2 separate regions of the Homo sapiens genome follow, and region 2 is linked to region 1. Evidence: fine-mapped expression QTL. A gene starts in region 1. The other region holds a variant in brackets. All regions are shown on one strand. Distances are from middle to middle.

Region 1 (8,000 bases):
TCAGCCAAAAATAATGTATTCCATCACTGCGGGAATCCCGATCTCTAGATGAGGGCCCACTGATTTGCCCAGAAGACTGAGGGACAACAGGATGCAGTAGGAGAGAGCGGCTCCCAGGGACGGCAGCCTCCTTAGCCGACAGCTCCTAGTTTTGGTGCTTTCTTCCATCCAAGACAGGCTCTGCAAAAATAACTAAGAGTCTTTTTCTTCACATTTTATCTTTTTGGCACATTCACTGCTTACAGGACAGAGCCCCAGAGCAACTTTCCATTTGACCGGGATCCAGCTGAAGGGTTAAACCATGTGATTCAACACCAGGAATTTCAGGTGTCATCGAACTGAAATGAGGAGAAAATATTTTGGGGTCAAGGAGAGGGGCCCTTCTCAAGTGACCTTGATACCAGATGCTGTAAAAGGAGTTTTCACCAACATAGAGAACCAAAGAAAACATCCGCCAATGAATAGGCAATGCTGCTCTTTGCCTCTTTCATGTGCAAGAGATAGAAAGAAAAGTGTACATTTTTATATAAAAAGACCTATACTTTTAGGATTTCAGAGGTTAATTACAAAAGCATTTCCCTGCTTTACTTGGAATTCCTGGAGATTCACCATACATAACCTGTATGTTTCCGTTTCTCTTGTGCGAATATGGTTTCCTTCACTTTTTAACTATTAATAGCCACCCCTGTAGCCAAGCCGTAAATATGTAAAAACCTATATGCCATCTTGGTGTGAATGTAAAATTCATACACACAGCTGTTGTTCCACACGGCTTAGCACAGTGAGTTCCAAATTTAGAAGTGAGTTGTTGTAAAAGGAAAATAAATCTCAAGACCACAAACCCACTAAGCCAAAGGGAAAAGTCAAGCTGGGAACTGCATCAGGCAAACCTGCCTCCCATTTTACTCCTAAAGAAGATGGCTGCAAAGATGCAAAAGCTACATACAGACCTCCCTCACAAGGAAATTCCTGGTGGGCTCCAAGATCTTTACCCAAGAACAGTTCTGCTGAATTTCACCCTGACAATGTAAGATGATAACTCATCTTCACAGGCACGGGACAAAGGACAGAACTCAAAGTCATCCCTCCATTTACCTGAGGCAAATGCATAACTGATGGCATCCTCTGTCCTATGTTTATTTCATCTTATATAAAAATGAAGTTTCACTAAGCAAGACGAATGCTAAGCGACTGTTCCTCTACCCGCCCCACTTATAAAATGTGTATTCAGTGAATGCTGACCAAAGATTCAAAAAGTTGCAACTGCTTCCCTCTTACAGACCCTCCTTTTTTTTTCCTTCCTCTTTCCCCCAATACCTACTCTTTTCTCTTTACTTATTAAGGTCCCCAGACCCTCTATGGGGGAAAAAGCATAAGCCACAGCCTTTTCCTGTGGTTCTGTGTTCTTTTTCCTGGGTACATCCTTAACCTTGGCACATAAACTTCTTAAATGATTGAGACTTGCGGTGGTCATTTTCTTTGATTTACATTGTCTACCAGGGGTGTCCAGTCTTTTGGCTGCCCTGGGCCCATTGGAAGAAGAATTGTCTTGGGCCACACATAAAATACACTCACACTAACGACAGCTGATGAGCTAAAAACACAAAACAAAATCACAAAAAATTCATGATGTTTTAAGAAAGTTTACAAATTTGTGTTGGGCCACATTCAAAGCTCTCCTGGGTTGCATGAGACCCAAGGACTTCGGATTGGACAAGCTTGGTGTAGACATAGAAAATATCCCACCTTTATTGGGTAGGAACGCACAGTAGCTGCAGGCCTTGTGCGTGATTGTTCTAGGTCATTGAAGCCATTTGTGGAGATCAGTCACCCTCAAGCACTTGGCCTGTAAATGGTCCACATTCTGCTTGTCACCTTTCCTGATGCATAGTTGATAGCTGTGGCTTATAGTTTATATGGAATGTAGAATGCTTTTCACCCCAATTATAGATGAGACAGTCCCGTTTTTTGAGTTGACCAACTTAAAAAAACTTCCTACCTAAATGTTCTTTTGAATAAAAATTTGTATTGCTTGAAACACAGAATAATTATTTTATTATTAAACCAGAAATCATGCACTATTTTTTCTGTTAATTATCAGGAAAGTTCTGTTTTCTCAAGAAAGTTCTAAGGTCGCAGAGGTCAAAGATCAAGTCCCATGTGTACGCTCAGCCCCAAGACACCCAGAGTAGCCTCATTTCCAACAAACCCGGGGTAGACTGAGCTGCTTGAAACGCAAACGCCATCACTAGCCCAAGTTGGGAGAGCTGACTTTGCCTCTTTGAAGACTGGAGATGGGCAGGTGTGATCTCTTCCCTCATCATGACCTCTGCCTGCGGTGTGGAGGCTACAGGCCGGCAGGCACTCACGGCCTTGCACCCGTTCTCGGCCGCTGTTCGGCCTGTCACAGCCCGCTTCCCGCTCGCATGTGACAACAGGAGCCCAGTGCTTCAGCCCACCCTCCTCAGCCTCAAATGCCCCTAGAGCCCCTGAGTTTCTGCTGATGGAAGCCCACCTCTCCCAGGAAGCCCAGCATGAATGCCCACTCCTCCTTGAAGCCCTTCCTTTCTACACTGGGGGGATTTTCTTTTCCCCCGTGGGGTCCATACCACTTCACACTTATCCTATGGAAACAATTCTGCTCGGCCCTGAATTACAACCATGTGTGTTTCATAGATGATCCAGTTCCGTCTCATAACCCTAGCATCTGTCACAGTTCCCAGAGCACAGCGGCCATTCAATCGGCTTTGGTTGAATTCAGTTGAATTTCCTGTACCCACTATGGGATGCAGTTAACTTACACTCCCCTCCTTTGGTAACTTTAGTCTCAGGAATGGGTCTACTTCGTTCACTCTTATATAACTGGCACCTCAGCATGCAGGAGGCACTGGACACCATAGGAAATTTTTGGATTGAAAAGTACATGACTTCATACAATGCTGGACTGCTTTTCCCTTGAAGGAGTATGAAGGGCTGACTACAAATTGCCCCTCGGGGGTCCCAGTGCACACTCGCTGCTCCTAGTGACCCTGGCCCCTGTGCTCTCGGGAAGGGGCTGGTCCTGGAACAGAGGCATGATCGGGGCCACCCTCCCATCCTACGTGTCGCCTCCTACGCTTACCCCAGCGCCTGGCTTTGTGTGGAGGAACACAGGTCCCGCCCTCTCATTGGGCGCTGGTTCCGAGGGTGGCCTCTGTGGGTCTCTGTGCAGCAGCTGCAGCGCCAGCTGAAATGCGCGGAGGCTGGAGGGAGCACTGGTTGCTGATGATGCAGGGTCTGCTCTCCTCACAAAGGGGAAGCCAGTCATAGACTCAGGGTGGGGCCCAGACTGTCAGGACCCCTTAGGGACAGGGACCCAGGCTTCATCACACCTTCCTCCCTCCAAGCTTCAGAGTTCTCTCTCCGACCCAGTGGGCCTCCTGCCAGTCCCCATGCCTCAGGCCTCAGCGGCCAGCACACAGGGGGCAGGCCTTGTGGGCTGCCTGGCGGGGTGGCATCTGTTCTTGCCAGGTTCTCCTGTTGCTTCGCCTGCATGGAATCTTAATATTTAACGTGGGCTGGGTGCGGTGGCTCATGCCTGTAATCCCAGCACTTTGTGAGGCCAAGGCAGGCAGATTACAAGGTCAGGAGATGGAGATAATCGAGTTGAAATCCCGTCTCTACTAAAAAAAATACAAAAATTAGTTGGTCATGGTGGTGGGTGCCTGTAATCCCAGCTAATTGGGAAGCTGAGGCAGGAGAACTGCTTGAACCCAGGAGGTGGACATTGCAGTGAGCCATGATTGCGCCGCTGCACTCTAGCCGGGCGACAGAGCAAGACTCCATCTCAAAAAAAAAAAAAAAAAAAAAGTTATGTCTACACAAAAGCAGTTGAGATTCCAAAATGAATTACGTGTCTTTTTGTTTAAGCCATGTTTGTGTCAGAGATCCCAGTTGGACCCCTCCTTCCAGCTCAGGCTGTGTCCTCGCTAATCTAACGGCCTCCGGCCACCACCCCTGAGGTTCAGGACTGCAGGAACTGGAGAGGCCTTGCCAGGCGTCTCAGAGCCGTAGACTCTCTACCCTCGGCACATGTTGGCTCTGGCAAGTGGCTGCCTCTGTGGATGACAGTTGAATGCTTTATTGCCATCTATTCGATTACAGGCATTGCCACCGTCTTCCAGAAACAATCAATTGCTTCACGTAACTCTATAAAAACTGCACACCAAGCTGCTGAGGAGGTTGCCCAAGTTCTGTCAAGCACAGGGAAACATGGCTAATTTCCTTATCCACAAACCAAGAACAAAAGTCATTCATAAGATATAATCTGAAAGGCATTTTTCTTTTTCCATTTGACATGTTCATGCATTGTTAATTATTTATTGTTTTTCTCCCAGCACGTGGTGGGGTAAATTTTGTAAAAATGAAGTGAAATGAGGTTCTTCCACCAGGACTGTCTTCCTGAGCGTGCGAGGAAGGGTGGGTGGGTGGGGTTACTTTATCTGGGCTTCCTGCACTCCCAGGGAAGGCAATCCTGGCACAAGCAAGAGCACCTGGGCTCAGATCACTGGTGTGTCGATTTGTAAATCATGCATTTACTCAGCCATGTTTCATCTGTCCCTTCCATTGGAGATGTTACACCTGCACCTCCGAGACTTCGTGCTGACTCTCCACTTGGGTATCTGGCAGAAGAAGGGCAAAGCTATCAAGACTAGAGGAGACTCCTAGGGGCATTTTGGCAAGAAAAATATGCGGTGTGCATTTTTTATAAAAATGTATTTTTGTCTGAAGTGAGCACTAGAAGCAAACACATTTCCCCAAACCATTTGTTGTTCCCTTTGATTATTTCCCTGATTTCACATGGGGCTCACTCCTCTCCTTGGCTTCAGTTCTCCACCTAACTCCTGGTTACTGGATATGGAAAGGCTTGGAGATGGGCTTTGCACCTCCTAGGGACTGACCACACAGATTCTGGACTTTAACGTCAGAGACCCAACCCAGAGGAGCACTGGATCCCACCACAGTGTTGGTCCAGCGTCTCCTCCCGCCCTGGCTTCGTGCTGCAGTCAGCGTGCTTGGGGGCTCCCTATGTTCTGTTGTGTGGAACTCACAAATGCCCACTATTATGGCATAAATCTATCCCCCGCTTCCCACTGTTGGCACCAGAACACACTTATTTTACGCACCCTCCTGTGGAATCAAGAGGAGGTTAGATTCATTATGATGTTTACATCTATAATTTTGGCAAAGTGCAAGAAAACTCTGTACCAATACGTAGAATTTTCTCCATTTTATGACACCCCTATCCTATCCCTCCAGTGAGCATCAAGACTCTCATCCCAGGTGGTTGATGGAAGGAGAACCCCTTCTACCCTCTACTGAGCCTGAGGGAGAAAGACTGAAAAACAGCGTGGCTTAAGGGAATTCGGGGGGACTTCTGTGCCTCCCAAAGATCTTCCCAACCCGGTGGCCAAAGCCTAGACATTTTTCCAGTTAGCATTCCTCAAAAACCCCCCGACGAGCACAGTACCTGATTCACTGGGGGAGATAGTCAATATTAACTGAGAATGGACTTTTATTACCATCTTTACTTCAGTACTGTTTGAAGGACTATAATGAACATGATGCTTTCATAATAAATGTTAATGAAGACAGAGATACATCAAATTCAGTACATAAAACGAGCCTCCAGTTTTGGAAGCTGTTGCCTTGGGGGAAGTGGTGGTGTTGGGTCCCCAGGGTCTCGGCTGCTGCTGGTGGCGTTCCATGACCTGCTCTGGGTGCTGGTTACATAAGCATGTTCTTTTTAAAATGCTTCTTGTAGCCAGAATGATCTTTTTATAAAGAAGTCACTTCATGCCTGCCACTCCTCTAATCAAGGCCTTCTAGCAGGTTCTGTACTGGGATCAACAGTGTCCCCCAAAATTCATGTCTTCCCAGAACCTCAGAGTGTGACCTTTGGAAATGGGGCTGTTGCAGATGTGGTTAATCCAATATGACTAGTGTCCTTCTGTGGACACCAGTGGCATGAAGTTCCTCTTAGAGGAACTAGACACAGAGACACAGAGGAGAAGGCTGAGCAAAGATACAGACACATGGGGAAGAGGCCGCATGGAGATGGCAGCAGAGATTGGAGTGGTCCATCTACGGGCCAAGGAACACTGGGGATGGCCCGCAGCTCCGGAAGCTGAAGAGCCAGGAAGTACCCTCCCTTAGGGTTTTCAGAAGGGCCTGGCCCTACTGCCATCTTGATAGAATTCTGGCCTCTAAACTGTGAGAAAATGAATGAATTCCTGCTGTTTTTGCCACTCAAATTTGTGGTGCTTTATTATGACACCCTAGGAAATGAATACGGGTTCCCATGTGGCTCAGAATAAAACTTAAGGGCCTTACCTCGGTGCTGGGCCCTGTGCGATCTGGGCCCCCTCCGTGGGCCTCCTCTCAGACCTCAGCCCCTGCTTTACCTCCCTGGCTTTCCCGCTGGGTGCTGCAGCCTCTCCCACCACCTCGTCAGAGGAAGCGGTGTTTCCGCCCTGCACACAGCTGTGCCATGTCTGTCCTCATGCCCTCACCCAATTCCATTGCTCTTCCTGCCTCTGGCCACCCACAAACCGATTTTACATTTTTTCTGTAGAATAGAAACTTATTGAGAACAAAACATTGCCGTTTAATGCCTGCTTGATTCACTATATCTAGGTCAATATGTGGCACTTAGCAAATGCTTGATATTAAGTACATACTTCTTGGATGAATGAATAAATATCCTAATCTGCTTATTAATTTTCTTGCATGATGAGAATGAGACCTGCTTGGAATTTGTCAGGGTTAAGGATGGAAGTGGAACAGATAGATGAGGTCTCAGGAAAGGTTGCTGCAAAAACAGAAATCACAATTGCCTTCTGCAGGACTGGGCAGGTGAGGGAGGAGTGAGGGGACGGCCCTGGAAGGGGGCTGGCCTGGCGGGAAGGCCCGGGAAGGAGGGACAGGGGTGGTGGGTGGGGCTTTCTCCTGTACTTGGAGGCCGAGTGAGATCCATGGCTCAGTATTGAATGTGAGGTTCCCGAATCTGCTTCTCTTCAAGGCCGCTGTGCTCTCCTCGGAGCTGAGTGTGTGGACTGTGCAGCTCATCGGATGTGCACACACACACACGGGTGCTCATGGGCACACTTCCAAGTTGAACAGGTAAACCCTCTGGGTTTCAGGGCCATATTTTCAAAGGCCCACCCTGTCATTGGTGCCCTTTTAGGCCATGGCTGGAGATGAAGCAAAGCCTGCCCTGCCAGCAATGGGCAGGAAAGAACTATTCCCTAAGGAAGGAGGCTTCCTATTGCCCACACGCATCAGGACAGGCAGACGGAGGCGTCATGGGAGATAAATAACTTGCTTTGCGTTCCCGGTGTGAGACTTTACCTTCCAAAGCGGTCTGGTCGAACGCCTGTGTAGATTTTTGTTTTGTCTTATTTTTGCAAACAGAATGACTAAGGGAAGGGAGGGAGTCAGGGACTGAGGGAGGGCGTGTCGCGTTGGGAGTCGGACAGATGCTCTCCAGACAGGGATAGTGAGTCAGGCACAGGAGGGAGCAGAGTGGGACATTTGCAACGTGGGTAGGATGGAGGCTTTATAGTCACCAGGGGAAACCCACGGCGGCATCTGTCTTTCACCACAGGAGACTGTTCTCTGCCCATGCACGTTCCTTGAGGCCACGGTACAGCCCCTGTCCACCAGGGCACCACGTCTCCGGCCGCTGCTCCTTTGTGTGCGGGTCTGGCCGAGCAGGGGCCTGGGCAGGCGGTCTCGGGGGAAGGAGCGTGGCTGGCCCCGTGGCACCCGCAGCTCTCTCAAGAATGATTCCCGCCACACACGTGCTTCCTTCTGGATTTCCTACCCCTTCCAGGGTGCTGACCCCATGGGAAGAAAAGGGGAAGGAGGAAGGAAGACAAGTTTCCTGATTCCTTCCCCAGACTCAGATCTTCTTTCAGCTGGCGTGATCTGTCCTCGGGACGCTAGGAGAAGGTGGGCTG
Region 2 (10,552 bases), 26 kb before region 1:
AGAGCTCCCTGAACCCTGCACCCCTCGGGTCCTCCTCACACTGTATCCCAATGACCCTGGGACCTGCCCGTCCCCATCTAGAGAACACATTGAGGATGGAGCTCAGTCACCTTCACCTTCTCTCCCCAGCAGCTAGAGTGGAGAGTGGAGCCTCAGAGGCTCTGGAGCAAACGAAGAGGTGAGAACATGGAGAGGGGCCTCGTGAACTCTGATTATTGGTGTTAAAGTGAAAGGGATTTCAACATGGAGGCTGACGCCCAAAAATGAGGACTCTGATGCTCAGTTTATCAAATTCACCTTTGAAACAACCTTTGCTTGAGCACTTAAAGATTGATTCTAATTAAGTTGTCTTAATGAGTACTGCAATTATAGTTTTAGCATGGCTGATTCTTTTGAACAAATACCTTATACAAGAGACACAACCAAACAATTCAGATTATCACCTACTTCTTACCTCCACTTTGAACCTACTCTACAGCATTAACCATTTCCTCATTATTCTATATTTAATTTTTATATTTTCCTAGAATTATTACTATAATTATATTTTGTTGTCATTTTTACTTCTTTCCCTGCTTTAAAAAGAAAAACAGAAATTCTGTAGTTCGTCTTGCTGTGGGTGTGGGTGTGACAGCGGAAACTGTGTTACTCTCTGGTTATTCCTCCTCCAGCATTTTAAACTCAAGTCACTGGACATCGTATTCAACATTTTATGGTTAAACCTGACATGCTACATTAGCATTCTTGTGTTTCTAATGAACGCCGTTCACAAATGTTTTAGTTTTTTGCAACCTGGGATCAGGCCACATCATGACTTTCATTGCCTTTGTGGGATCTTTTTTCCATTAAAAAATTTAAACACGTAAGTTTTGTTACTGCATTTGTATAAAGGTGGATATATCAATCGTGTATATTGAAACATTTTCTTATACCTAAGAGTTTATTTGTTTCCTTCTGATTTTTAAGAGAAATTAAAACATTTTCGTGGGTTCCTAAAAGTATCGTGGGCCCTCATGTGCCTGAGGGAGACGCTGGCCCTGCCTGGCCTCTCGCCTTGTATATTTGAGTCTCCCCTGCCTGGTGTTCCATCACGCGTGGTCCTGGCATTCTGAGACGTCAGGAGAGCTGGTGTTGGTGTTGGAAACACAGGCATTCTTCACTTTCCGAATGAGCAGTGGCTTCCCAGAGAAGGTTCATCCTGGAAAGGCAGGGTGGGGCTGCAGGGCAGCTCTCTGGACTCACGCTCGGGGGTCCTCAGCCATCTCTGCTGTCAGGTGGCACCAACGGGATCGACTCTTATTTTTTGCTCTTGGCTCAATGCCCATTTTTTCCCAGGCTACTTGGCTTTCTTGTGGTTTCCCAGGTTTCTTATCTGCATCTGCAGATAGATACAGGTTTATATCTATACTTTAGAAGCAGACAATGGAAGGAGTAAGACCACATTCCTCATTTATTAAAGGGAATAAAATTAAATGTGTCATTATATTCTTTTGTATCACAACCATCTTTGTATATAACTTTTTTCTTCTGAATATCATTTTCAGTTTGTAATCAACTTACTTCAATTAACCATATTTCATTATTTATTTTTTATTATGAGTTGATTCTCAAACGACCAAAACTTTTCTGTCTTTGTATCACTTCCCAAGTGTCCTTGCTTGCTGGGAACACACAGCACCTGGCAGGCTGCACTAGCTCCTAGGCTGCTGCCTCACCTTACAGGCAGGCCTTGGGGATACTGTGGATTTGGTTCCAGGCCACCACAATAAAGCCCATATTGCAACAGAGCAAGTCACACAAATATTTTGTTTCCCCAGTGCCTATAAAAGTTTGGTTTATATTATACTGTAGTCTATTAAGTGTATAATAGCATTATGTCTAAAATATGAACATATCTTAATTTAAAAATAGTGTATTGATTTAAAAAATGCTAATGATCATCTGAGCCCTCAGTGAGTTATAATTGTTTTGCTGGTGGAGGGCCTTGCCTGGATGTTGATGGCTGCTGACTGATCAGGGTGGAGGTTGCTGAAGGTTGGGGTGACTGTGGCAATATCTGAAATAAGACCACAATGAAATTTACTGCATTGACTGACTCTTCCTCTCATGAAAGGTTTCTCTGTAGCATGCGATGCTGTTTGATAGCATTTTACCCACAGTACAACTTCTTTTAAAATTGGAGTCAATCCCCTCAAACCCTACCCACTGCCCCATCAACTAAGTTCATGGAATATTCTAAATCATTTGTTGTCATATCAATAACGTTCACAGCATCTTCACCAGGAGTCAATTCTATCTCAAGAAACCACTTTCTTTCCTCAACCATAAGAAGCCACTCCTGATCTGTTCAAATTTTATCCTGAGATTGCAGCAATTCAGTCACATTTTTAGGCCCCACTTCTAATTCTAGTTCTTTTGTTATTTCCACCTCATCTACAGTTACTTTCTGCAGTGAAGGCTTGAACCCCTCAAAATCATTCATGAGGAATGAAATCAACTTCTTCTAAACTCCTGTTAATGTTGATATTGGTTCTCCTCCCGTGAATCATGAATGTTGTTAATGGCATCTAGAATGGTGAATCCTTTCTAGATGGTTTTTAATTGACTTTGCCCAGATCCATCTGAGGAATCACTATCTATGGCAGCTATAGCCTTTTGAGATGTATTTCTTAAGTAACAAGACTTGAAAGTTGAAATTACTCCTTGATCCATGGGCTGCAGAATGGATGTGGTGTTAGCAGGCATGAAAGCAACATTCCTCTCCTTGCACATCTCCATCAGAGCCCTTGGGTGCATTGTCAATGAACAGTAATAATTTGAAAATAGTCTTTTTTTCTGAGCAGTAGATCTCAACAGTGGCCTCAAAATATTCAGTAAACCACTCTGTAAACAGATGTGCTCCCATCCGGCTTTGTTATTCTACTTATAGAGCCAAGACAGAGTAGATTTAGCATAATTCTTTTTTTTTTTTTTTTTTTTTTTTTTTTTTTTGAGACAGAGTTTGACTCTTGTTGTCCAGGCTGGAGTATGATGGCATGATCTTGGCTCACCGCAACCTCCGCCTCCCGGATTCAAGCAATTCTCCTTTCTCAGCCTCCAGAGTAGCTGGTATTACAGGCACCCACCACCATGCTTGGCAAATTTTTTGTATTTTTTTTTTTTTTAGTAGAGACGGGGTTTCTCCATGTTGGTCAGGCTGGTCTCAAACTCCTGACTTCTGGTGATCCACCCACCTCGGCCTCCTGATTTAGCAAAATTCTTAAGGGCCCTAGGATTTTCGGAATAGTAAATGAGATTGGCCGCAAGTTTAAGTCACCAGCTGCATTAGCTCTTAGCAAGAGACATCCTGTCCTTGGAAGTTTGAAGATAGGCATTGACTTCTCCTCTCTAGCTATGAAAGTCCTAGATGGCATCTTCTTCCAACAGAAGGCTGTTTCATCTACACTGACAATCTGTGGTTTGGTGTGGCCACCTCCATCACTTACCTTAGCTAGGTCTCTGGATAACTTGCTGCAGCTTCTCCATCAGCACTTGTTGCTTCATGTTGCACTTTTATGTTATGGACATGGTTTATTTCCTTAAACCTCATGAACCAACCTCTGCTACATTCAAACTTTTCTTCTACAGCTTTCTCACTCCTCTCAGTCTTTGCGGAACTGAAGAGAGTTGAGGCCTTGCTCTGGATTAGGCTTTGGCTTGAGGGATCCATATCAGCAATAAAGCTGTTTCACTTTCTCGTCATTCATGTGTTCACTGAAGCAGCACTTTTAATTTCCTTTAAGAGGTTTTTCTTTGCATTCACAACTGAGCTAACTCCTGGGTGCAAAAGGCCTTGCTTTCAGTCTATCTTAACTTTGAACAGGCTTTCCCCACTAAGCTTAATCATCTCTAGCTTTCGATTTAAAGTGAGAGATGTGTGTCTCTTCCTTTTACTTGAACACTTAGAGGCCGTTGTAGGTTATTAATAGTGTAATGGGAATAGGGAGGCCTGAGGGGAGGGAGAGAGATGGGGGCAGCTGGTCAGTGGAGCATGTGGAACACACGTGACATTTATTACGTTTTCTGTCTTACGTGGGTGCAGTTGTTGGTTCCCCAAAACAATTACAGAGTAAAATCGAAGATCACTAAGTACAGATCACCATGACAGATATAATGATAATGAAAAAATTCGAAATATTACAAGAATTACCAAAATGTGAAACAGAGATATGAAGTGAGCACAAGCTGTTTGAAAACGGGACCCACAGATGTGCCCCAACGGAGTTACCACAAACTTCCAATTTGTAAAAACAAGTGCAGTATCTGCGAGGCACAATAGAGCAAGGCGCAACAAAACGAGGTCCGCCTGTGCGTGCGAACCCCTCGCAGGGAGGCTGTAAACACAACGCAGGAACATCATGAAAAAGCCCGTTCCGGCGCTGGGCTGCAGAGGGCGCTGTCGGGTAAACAGGTCATTTCGCGGCACAAAGCAGCTCACAGCGCATCTCTGAAGTAACGCGGTCA[ACGCGGTCAG/G]ATTCACCTTTCCAACATGTGCCATGCAACAAACTGGGTCACTGAAAACCGCGGAAGTTTATTCCTCACCCCCCCCCCCGCCCCCGGACCAGGTGGGTTGCGCCCTCAGGGAGCTGAGCCGTCCCCGTGAGGCCCCTTCGCTGCCAGCACAGTTCAGCTGTGCCGTCCCCAGCGCTGCGGTGCCTGTAGCTGGTGTGCGGAGGAATCGTGGTCAGAAATGTGCACACGTGGTCCAGACAGACGGCCCCGTGAGTCTCCGAACAGAAAAGAGGGGGGCGAGGCGGAGTCCTGAAGGCTAGGCTTGCAGAGGCGGGAGAACCAGGCAGGGGGCCACGGGCCTGCGGGGCTCCGGACAGCGACAAGGGCGGCGCCCCCCACCCGCCTGCGCTCCCGGAAGGCCGAGTCTGTCAGCGCTGCCTGCGGTGTGTGGCAGCTGCGCGCTCCTTCCCTGTGGGGCAGAGCTGGCTGGAGCCACCGCCTGAAGAAACTGGGCTCTGTCCTCCGCTCCGGGGAGGGGATCGTGGCCAGTGGATGCTGAGTTCCTTCTGTTGCCTGCCGCAGCCCACAGCGAAGTCACTCTGAAGAGCATCTCGCTGGCCTGCGCTTCTGCTTCTAGGCGGCTCTGACCTTGACACCCCTTTCCTCTTCTGCTTATGCCTTCGAATCCTACATTAAGGGAAATGGGGATCCTGTTTTGAAACCAAATGAGAAAGAACCACAACCCTCAACTTCAAAACACTTCCAGTCTCCTGAAGGTTTTTTAGATTCGGAGATCTCCACCCATTTCCCAGGGTCCTTGAAATGTTTCCTGGAGCCGCGCCTCTCCCAGTGCTCTGGCTGGAGACAGCAGCGGTGGCTGTCTTCCTCCGCGTCCTTGTGAGCACCCAGTTTGGGGTGGAAGAGTCAAAAAAAAAAAAACCCAGGAACGCCCCACCCTGTCGTTCTCAGGGTCCCCCGGCTCCCCCGGGCTTCCTCTCTCCGCCTCTCGTCTTCCTGCGTTTGTCTGATGGGCACTGCCCGAGGTTTCCGGTTGCACCTGCGGGACGGAGGAAAACGCACGCCTGTTCCATCTTCTTAGGAGGGGAATTCTGAGGCTTTTTGAATGACCACCGTGTAGCGCCTTAATTCTCCTTCACTTTCACCGGTTTTGTCTGCCCCACCTCAGGAAGACTGTCTGTGTTCTTTCCTCCATAGCCCGGGCACCGAAGGCACATGCCGTGCATACAAATTTCCTGTCTCGTCTCAGACTCCACGTGAGCTCGTTATTACTTCAATTTAATCTGCGCACGTTTCACCCTAGGAGAGATACTGCCAGATGTGGCAGCTTCTCCTGACAGATGGCCCGAGGCCATTCTTGCCCTAAAACTTCAAATGCTCACATAAAACCATCCTTCCTAACAACACAGGTTTTCCCATTTCTGTGAGGTTGACCTTTACACCTGAAGAGTCATCGAAACCCAGCTAGTGATAAAGAAGTGAAGATTTCAAAAAAACGGAGGGAGAATGGAATCTGGTCTCTGGTTTTCAAGCGATTCCAGTTGCTTGATTTAGTCTCATTGGAATGTTTGAGCATTTGAGGAAAAGGCCCTTAACTCTATTTGCCAAACCCCATAAAGTAGGAGCTGAACTGACATTTAAAATCGGAGCAGCCTTGACGGGCTTGCGTTCTTACTTGCGTCCTTTAAATCTTTCCTGGAACAGAGTTGAGAACGTATAAATGTATAAATGCGTGAAAACAGGCAATGAACAAAGTGTTCATTCCAGTCTCGTGTCTAAATTCCCCGGAACATGTTTTTTCTCCTGCCTTTTCTCTGAACTCCATGCAGGTCAAGTCACAGCCTTTTTTTTTTTTTTCTTTTTTCACAGACTCTCACTCTGTCTCCCAGGCTGGAGTGCAGTGGCGCGATCTCAGCTCACTGCAACCTCCGCCTCCCAGGTTCAAGCAATTCTCCTGCATCAGCCTCTGGAGTAGCTGGGACCACAGGTGCACACCCCCACGCCTGGATGAGGTCATAGGCTTTGTCAGCTGTACCCGCAGTCTCCCTGTGCACCCAGCCACGGTTAGAGGTCACTGTCTTGACCCTGGCGGTGACCCTTGCTCTTTGCAGTTGTGCCACCCACTCTGCATCCCTACTTGCAGCAGCTTAATCTGGCCTCTTTCAAAATAATTTCAACCGACGGTAATTGTATATATTTCTTAGGTACAATGTGAAGTTTTGATGTATGTTTGCATTGTGGAATGATTGAATGAAGCTAAATAACATATCCATTACTTTACAGGCATCATTTTTTCTGTGTGAAGAAAACATTGAAAATCTATTATTTTAGCAATTTCGAAATATACACTACATTATTATTGACTATCGTCACCATGCTATGCAACAGATCACTAGAACTTCTTTTATTCCAGCACTTTGGGAGGCCGAGGCAGGCAGATCACAAGGTCAGGAGTTCAAGACCAACACGGTGAAACCCCGTCTCTACTAAAATGCAAAAATTAGCTGGGCATGGTGGCACTCACCTGTAGTCCCAGCTACTCAGGAGGCTGAGGCAGGAGAATGACTTGAACCTATGAGGCGGAAGTTGCAGTGAGCCGAGATGGCGCCACTGCACTCCAGCCTGGCGACAGAGCAAGACTCTGCCAAAAAAAAATAATTAATTAATTAATTAAAAAATAATAACACGTTTAACTTTATTTCTTCATTTTTTACTTAAAGCTTGATTATATAAAATAAAAAATTTTTTCAAGAGTTCTACATCACAGGACATTAAACAGTAGAAATATCTGTTCCTTCATAGGTTCAAGTTATATAAATTAAATCTGTAAATTTATTAAATATGGAAAACTACATGATGAAATAAATGTCAAAAGGATCCAGTAGAGCAATATTGCATTGCTTATGGATTATTAGTTACTTTCAGGATCTAAACCAAGATTCTAAATATTTAGACTGCTTTCATTGTATTTTATATTTAAATATCTCCCTACCTGTGCTGAGTCAAGCCACTTTACCAGAATGTCTGATTTAAGGAAGCATTTCATTTTATAGCAAAAGTTTTTCCATCTACAGTTACCATCTGCAATGGAATTTACACTACGGTGCTGACAAAAACCTCCTGGTTCCTTTTGAACAATGTGCAATAAATTCATTATGTCAACCCCATGGTAAGCCTAACAGGTATCAAAAAAATTGACCAATTACACAAAGTTCAGTAAAGTATAATATTGGTTTTTCCCATGTCAACATTAACCAGTGAAATAAAACATATCAGCTATAGTTGACTTGGTTTCAGGAAAACCACGTTTGAAAATTACACTATCTTCCTCATGTCATCCTCGGTCATTGACAAGGTTTTGTGGGTCACCACGCTGTGAGCTGTGTGGATGTAGCAGCAAATGAATGAAGGGAGACTTGCTCGGATTGGTCATGAACTGTGGTCCCCACTCTTCCCATCTTCCAGGTACAACCAGATCTTTGCATAAATCATAGATCGAATGAACAAGAAAATTCAACAGTTGCAGAAATGTCACTAACTGTGGTTCATCTGATCGCTGGATGGATTTTGTCCTGGATAGCTTTCTGAGACTTTTCTCTGGGTTCAGTGTCCTCCTTTCTCTGGGTTACCTGTCCTCCTTTCTCTGGGTGCGCTCTCTGTTCTCTGGGTGCACCGTCATCTTTTGCAGTCTTGTCACACTCAGTATCAAAGTGCCTTCCTTCAAGGACATCACCACTTTCAATATTTGCAATGACTGTGGCGAATTTATGAACGAACATTTGTATAGCCAATCCTTTGGTTGTTCGAGCACATTATTTAGGTATTGTATGAGCACAGGATCTGTAGTTACAAGCAAGGTGAGTCTGTACTCTGCACTCCAATGAAGGCTTCAGGTGGGTATGTGCTGTGCTGATATAAAATGCTGTTGATACCAAATGGGAAGAACTCAGCCAGGATTCCACGCTCCTGCCAGGGTGATTCTCTGCTCCTGGGAGAGCTGCATCGCCTCAGCCAGGCCCACAGACCAAGGCACATGGGTTTCCACTTGGCCGACCAAGAGCGCAGCCGCTCCCCCGGCCCCTCCCGCAGCAGTTCCCCACCACGGCTTCATAGAACTTAGTTCTTCTGCCTCACTGAACTTTGTACCCTTTGACTAGCATTTCTTCATTTGCCACCCCTACCCACTCCTCAGCCTCTGGTAACCAGCATTCTACTCTCTACTTCAATTAACTTAACATTTTTAGATTACATGTACAAGGGAAGACCTGTGATACTTATTTTTCTGCGCCTGGCTTTCTTCACTTAGCATAATGTGTTTTAGGTTTACCCATGTTGTCACAAATGACAGTGTCCTTCTTTTTTAAAGGCTGAATGGCGTTTCATTGTAGATATACACCAGCCTTTCTTTATCCACTCATCTGTGGTTGGACACTTCGGTTGCTTCCGTGTCTTATGGGGAATAATGATGCCAGGAACATGGAGGTGCAGACATCTCTTTGACATGTTGATTTCATTTCTCTTGAAAATATACCCAGAAGTGGGATTGCTGGATCATATGGTAATTCCATTTTTTGTTTCTTGAGGAACATCCATACTTTTTTAAAACAATGGCTGTATTAATTTACATTCCTACTAGCAGTGTACAAAGACTTCCTTTTCTCCACATCCCCAGCAAAACACAAAGTGTGATATCACTTCATACCTGTTAGAAGGGATATTGTAATGGATCACCTTTTTAATAATATCCATTCTAACAGGTATGAAGTGCTCTAGTGGTTTTAATTTGCATTTCCCTGATGATTCATGATAGTGAGCATTTTTTCATGTATCTCTCGGCCATTTGTGTGTCTTCTTTTGAGAATGTCTAGTCAGGTCCTTTGCTCGTATTTGAATTTTTAAATATATTTTTGAAACTAGCCCCTTATCACATACAGAGTTTACAAATATTTCCTCCCAGCCTGGGGGTTGTGTCTCCCCTCTGTTGTTTCCTTTGCTGTGTAGGCGCTTTTAGTTTGATCTAATCCCATTTATTTTTGTTTTTGTTACCTACTCTTTTGGGGTGATATCCAAGAAATCATTGACCAGACCAATGTTGTGCAGCTTTTTCCTTATGTTTTGTTCTAGTACTTGCACAGTTTCAGGTCTTTTGTTTGGGCCTCTAATCCATTTTGAGTTGATTTTTGTATGTGGTGTGAACAAAAGGTCCAATCTCATCTTTCTGCACTTAGTTTTCCCAGCACCATTTGATGAAGAGACTGCTCTTTCCTGTTGTGTGTTCTTGGCACCTTAGTCAAAGATCAATTCCCTGTAAATACGTGGCTTGATTTCTGGCCTCTCTATCCCGTCCCACTGGTCGATGCGTATGTGTTCATGCAACCACCATGCTGGCTTGGTTACTCTAGCTTTGTAATCTGTTTTGAAAATAAATAGTGCTATGCTTCTAGCTCTGTTCTCTATGTTCAGGATTGCTGTGTCTATTTGGGGTCTCTTGTGGTTCCATACAAATTTTAGGATTGTGTTTTCTATTTCTATGAAAAATGATATTGGGATTTTGATAGAAATTGTATTGAATCTGTAGATTGCTTTGGGTAGTGCAGACATTTTAACAATATTCATTCTGACAGTTTATGAACACAGGATAATATTTTAATATGTGTCATCTTCAATTTCTTTCATCACATTTTACAATTTTCAGCGTACATATTTTTCACCTCTTTGGTTAAATTTACTGCTAAGTATTTTTATTGTTTTGATGTTATTGTAAATGAGATTTTCTTAATTTCTTTTTTATATAGTTTGTTGTTAGTGTGTAGAAATGCAACTGCTTTTTGCTTGTTGATTTTGTATCCTGCAACTTTACTGAATTTGTTTGAGTTTGCAACAGTTTGGGGTGAGATCTCTAGGGTTTTCTATATATAAGATTATGTCATCAACAAACAGAGACAATTTTATTTCTTTCTTTCCTATTAGTTTGTTTGTTTGTTTGTTTTCTTAATGCTGACTAGGACTTCCAGTATGATGTTGAGCAGAAGTGGTGAGAGCA

Evidence for each region.
Region 2: its variant is fine-mapped to the expression of TTLL2 in spleen (GTEx, PIP above 0.99). The same link has a PIP of 0.9 or more in prefrontal cortex.

The regions. Positions count from the first base shown.
Region 1 is chr6:167,320,342-167,328,341 of GRCh38, reverse strand. It overlaps TTLL2 (tubulin tyrosine ligase like 2), which reads right to left and starts at 3,256. Exons shown (of 3, transcript NM_031949.5): 1 at 3,122-3,256. The coding sequence starts at 3,168. RefSeq lists an enhancer at 3,216-3,717.
Region 2 is chr6:167,345,435-167,355,986 of GRCh38, reverse strand. It overlaps the pseudogene LOC100421518. Among named protein-coding and RNA genes, the nearest start is that of TTLL2, 26 kb to the right of the region's middle. RefSeq lists enhancers at 4,212-4,506, 4,330-5,008 and a silencer at 4,719-4,988. The variant ACGCGGTCAG/G (reference allele first, on the strand shown) is at 4,504.